Homo sapiens: one gene and its partner. The protein of the gene in region 2 interacts with the protein of the main gene of each other region in a biochemical or structural test. Each region holds a gene or a part of one and is shown on either strand. Other genes may lie near its edges.

Evidence for each region. Proteins that work in one complex are often made in the same cells at the same time.
Region 1: of the proteins of USP1 (region 2) and PCNA, one has a biochemical effect on the other in vitro, tested with the Homo sapiens proteins (6 studies listed by BioGRID, with this or other methods).

Annotation. Positions count from the first base shown.
Region 1 is NC_000020.11:5,114,352-5,117,101, forward strand, and holds the end of PCNA (proliferating cell nuclear antigen), read right to left. Parts: intron 1,222-2,750; coding exon 1,098-1,221; intron 1,012-1,097; coding exon 932-1,011; 3' UTR 602-931; downstream 1-601. UniProt on the Homo sapiens protein: Auxiliary protein of DNA polymerase delta and epsilon, is involved in the control of eukaryotic DNA replication by increasing the polymerase's processibility during elongation of the leading strand.
Region 2 is NC_000001.11:62,449,677-62,452,304, forward strand, and holds the end of USP1 (ubiquitin carboxyl-terminal hydrolase 1), read left to right. Parts: intron 1-569; coding exon 570-1,305; 3' UTR 1,306-2,128; downstream 2,129-2,628. UniProt on the Homo sapiens protein: Negative regulator of DNA damage repair which specifically deubiquitinates monoubiquitinated FANCD2. Also involved in PCNA-mediated translesion synthesis (TLS) by deubiquitinating monoubiquitinated PCNA.

The DNA.
Region 1 (2,750 bases), on a different chromosome or scaffold from region 2:
ACAGGTGTGAGGCACCGTGCCTGGCAAAAAATTCTTAATACACAGCACACAGTGAACTTGTAGCTATTAGTGGGAATGTTTTTAAGTCTTTCTTCACAACTTCAGGGCTTTTTCACTTTCTTGGTTGGATCCAACATCCGTGGAATTTAAGACATCTTCATCCTTTGAGTGAAGTTGCAAAGTGTACTTATACTAGAGAAATTTTGTACAACCATACTCCTTGGGCCCCATTACAGCTCTACTGAAACATCCAAGACTCTTGTAAGATTCCCCAGGCTAAAAAGAAACACTCCATTAACATCTTATAAAGCCCACACGACTTTCGGTACATTAAGCTTCTGAAGAGTATTAATTTTTGCCAAGTAAAATGAAATACACAGGATTTGTACTACTCTCTCACTTGTTCCTTGAGCTCAAATTGGAATAACAAGTTTGACAAGTGAATCCCCTAAAATATCTAGTAACCTACTGTATTTGAAATCCTTTTGATCTCCATCAGGCTGCTCTAAACTGAAAAACCATTTAAACGAAAGGGTAGCTGTAGCTGGGAATTCAGTAGGATACTTCCAACAGTCCTGGTCAAAATGAAGACACTGCCCTGTGATGTTTGAAATTCAAGTAACTTTATTTAAATTCAAAAACAATTCTTAAAACTGCATTTAGAGTCAAGACCCTTTTGTATTATAAAAATCACAAGTATTTCTAAGAGACAAAAATACTTCTAGGTTAACTAGACCAGATCTGACTTTGGACTTTATTCTTTAAACAAATTGCAGAGAATAGAGAAAAAAATAGGTTATTTACAGAAAACAATATCTACATATGTACTTAGAGGTACAAATTTGGTGACAGAAAAGACTTCAGTATATGCTGGCATCTTAGAAGCAGTTCTCAAAGAGCTTAGTTTTATTTTCTTGAATTTTAAGAATGCCTAAGATCCTTCTTCATCCTCGATCTTGGGAGCCAAGTAGTATTTTAAGTGTCCCATATCCGCAATTTTATACTCTACAACTGAAAGACAGGAAGATGGTTAATTACTGAGGAGTATGTATCACATATGACTACCTACAAAACAAGGTTCAAATTTATTATCTTACCAAGGGGTACATCTGCAGACATACTGAGTGTCACCGTTGAAGAGAGTGGAGTGGCTTTTGTAAAGAAGTTCAGGTACCTCAGTGCAAAAGTTAGTTGAACTGGTTCATTCATCTCTATGGTAACCTACAAAACAAAAGATTCATCATTGAAAAACATCAAGAAAGTTGCAATCTATTAGCTCATTATATATTTATAAAAACCCACAAACACTTGTATTGGTCACTTTGGAGGGAGCTATGAAAATTTTGAAGACTGATACATAAAGCAAAAGACTCGATTATCTAGCTTGTCTTTCCTATAGCTATAATTTAGATAACCAAATTATATAATATGGGAAAGCTTTTCTTTATGGAAGTTTTTCTAATAAGCAGCCAATAAGTGAATAAAACGTATTAATTTCAGCTCTGCAAACTCTAATTAATGACTTAATGGATCTAGACAATGACTATTATAGCTGCTAACATTGCAAACACATCCAGACACCCTGTGCCTCCTACTAGAGGCACACACCACCACCTATATTCTTGCTCTCTCACCCCCGAAACAAAACACCCTGAATATCAAGGCTCCAGGGCTATAGCTACCAGTCTGTAGGACACACAGGGTAGAGGAATTTATGTATACACAGGAATGCAATCAGCAAAATCCAAACTCTGGAAAACTTAATAAATGATCTAATTTCTTCAACAAATAGATTGTAATGGAAGGGGGAAAATGAAATTAGGGGAAACCAGGCTAGGTGTGTTGGCACACACCTGTAGTCCCGGCTACTTGGGAAACTGAGGCAGGAGGATCACTTAAGCCCTGGAGTTTGAGGCTGTAGTGAACCGACTGCACCACCGCACTCCAGCCTGGGTGGACAGAGCAAGACCCTGTCTCAAAAACAAAGAAAAACAGAAAAAGAAAAAAACGAGGTTGGCAGGAGTGGAAATGTGATTCAGGAAACAGATAAAGAATCAGCTCCTAGACTTTATTAATTTAAAAAAAAACCTTTCAACTGAATTTTACCTTTATTTAAACTAAATGTTGACTACCCATTCAAGGGACAAGAGAGCAATATATAGTATTTATTGTAAGCTTATAATATGCCACACACAGCATATGCTAAGCTCTTTAATGCTACCGTATTTAATCCTAACAAGGTTATGAGGTTAGGACCTTTGTCCTTGATTTACAAAGTTTTAATTTATGCCCAGGTTAGCGAGTTTTTTTTGTTTGTTTAAGATGGAATCTTGCTCTGTCACCCAGGCTGGAGGGGAGTGGCATGATCTGGGCTCACTGCAACCTCCGCCTCCTCGGTTCAAGTCATTCTCCCATCTCAGCATTCCAAGTAGCTGGGATTACAGGTGTGCGCCACCACACCCGGCTAATTTTTATATTTTTAGTAGAGATGGGGTTTTGCCATGTTCTTTCTATTTTGGTTAAACAAGGGCTCTCTAGGTACTCTCAAAGTTGCATGGAGTCTGCTTTCTAGCCTTAGTGAGAAGTCTCCTTCCTGTTTAACCTTTGATTCCTACAGCCTGTGACTTTGGCTAAATTGTCACTTAAGGTTGCTCAGCCTGCTTCTCCACCTTTAAAATGGGCTACCAATTGGACCCACAACATGTAAGCTAATATTAGGATTACATAAGTGCTCCAAACAGGTAGACTTT
Region 2 (2,628 bases):
AGGCTGAGATGGATGGCTTGCACCCAGGAGTTCAAGACCAGCCTGGGCAACATGACAAAACCCTATCTCTACAAAAAATACACAAACTAGTTTGGCGTGGTGGCGGGCACTTGTGGTCCCAACTACTCAGGAGGCTGAGGAGGAGGAGCCTGAGGTGGGAGGATCACTTGAGTCCAGAAGGAGCCATGATTGCACCACTGCAGTCAGCCTGGGTGACAGACCCTGCCTTAAAAAAAAAAAAACCCAAAACGTAACATTTTTGGTTCCGGTTCAGTCTATTTAAAATACCATTTATTTTCTTAACTGCACAAAATTAGGAAAATAAAGGAAAAAATACAATTATTTCTTCCACAGAAATGCCTGAATATTAGCAGTTATTTATTTTTTTGTTTCTGCATATATTATAAATATTATTCAAAGTTGGGGTCTTGTTTTGATTCTGCTTTTCTGATATATGAACACTGGATATTAAGGGTTCATTCAGATTTTTACTTGGTTTCAGATTGGGGTATAACATTTTGAATTTAAAATAGAACTGCAGGAAACCTTTTCTTTTTTTCCTCCCAAAGGTTTGATTGTTATGGTGGTGGACTTTCCAAGATCAACACTCCTTTATTGACACCTCTTAAATTGTCACTAGAAGAATGGAGCACAAAGCCAACTAACGACAGCTATGGATTATTTGCGGTTGTGATGCATAGTGGCATTACAATTAGTAGTGGGCATTACACTGCTTCTGTTAAAGTCACTGACCTTAACAGTTTAGAACTAGATAAAGGAAATTTTGTGGTTGACCAAATGTGTGAAATAGGTAAGCCAGAACCATTGAATGAGGAGGAAGCAAGGGGTGTGGTTGAGAATTATAATGATGAAGAAGTGTCAATTAGAGTTGGTGGAAATACACAGCCAAGTAAAGTTTTGAACAAAAAAAATGTAGAAGCTATTGGACTTCTTGGAGGACAAAAGAGCAAAGCAGATTATGAGCTATACAACAAAGCCTCTAATCCTGATAAGGTTGCTAGTACAGCGTTTGCTGAAAATAGAAATTCTGAGACTAGTGATACTACTGGGACCCATGAATCTGATAGAAACAAGGAATCCAGTGACCAAACAGGCATTAATATTAGTGGATTTGAGAACAAAATTTCATACGTAGTGCAAAGCTTAAAGGAGTATGAGGGGAAGTGGTTGCTTTTTGATGATTCTGAAGTCAAAGTTACTGAAGAGAAGGACTTTCTGAATTCTCTTTCCCCTTCTACATCTCCTACTTCTACTCCTTACTTGCTATTTTATAAGAAATTATAGAGTGAGTGTATTTTCCTTGTGTATATATTAAACACACCCATACAAACATTGGTAAAGTTGATTACATCAAAGAATCTTTAGCTTATCTTTTGAAGCTACTGGATATTATTGGTCTCTCTAGGTTTTTATATAAATAGTGAAATTTGAATTACTGAAAACCATGTTAATTTTTAGAACTCATTTTCCTCAGTAGAGACTAGTGATGCATTAGCTTCTGGGAACAAACTTGTATCGGTTCTTAATTAAATTATCCAAAACGGAGGCATTTAAACACTTGGATTTACACCAGTCTTTTGTGTTTGCTTTTTAAAATAAAGTGCTCGTATTTGTATTCTCCATATTTTGGAGTAATTATCTACATGATGTTTATAGTTCCTGTGGTTTTTCACCCAAGAAGCAGAATCTCATTCAGTACATTTAGTTTTATAAGAGTCATGAAGCTAAATCCTTGGGCTATGTCAGAGGCACAAAGTCTAGAATGTGTGTATTCACAATGGTGTATGTACATTTTGTGCCTTGATTCACTTAGAAGTGTCTCAGAAAACCTGGACAGTTCGCTTCTACACAAGAATTTTATATGTATTTATGAAGATGATTCTGTACCCTAGTATATCTTTTTGGGCATGGACTAATTTGTATCTGTTTAACTCATATTCTGCACGATCTGTATATAGTACATCAAACTTAGAGGTGTGACCTTAAATTTAACTTTTTTTAAAAACTGGGAGGTCAATAAAATTTAAACTGCTTAACTATGTATATGAATATTTGAATTTTTTACTTGTATATTTTTATAAATACAGCTGAGTTTTCTTAAAGCGAATAAGTGTGTGTATATATATATGTATATATATGAGAGAATAAGCATGCATAATTACCTTTATTACTGAATACTTTCTGACAGTGCAGGAGTTTTTCAAAGAGGAGAAATTGTGCTTAGTCCAGCCAAGCTGTCATACTTAAAAGAGGTTTATAATGAAATCTGTTGCATCTAATTGTCCTTTAAAGTAGACATGATTTAATGGAATCCAAAACTGGAAAAGTTAAGATGATGCTTTGGGCACACATAAAAACTTGGTTAAAATTTCATTTTAAACTAGTATACTGAAGTGGTAAGTGATGAATGATTTCATGACTTGTTAATGGACATTCTTGGTACTAAGTTTTTCCTAGAAATGATTCTAAATATGTAAATGCTATTGGGGTAACACTTTAATACCCCATTTCAACAAGGAGTACCTTCTCAATTAAAAAAAAATCGCAGTAGGCTGGGCGCGGTGGCTCACGCCTGTAATCCCAGCACATTGGGAGGCTGAGGCTGGT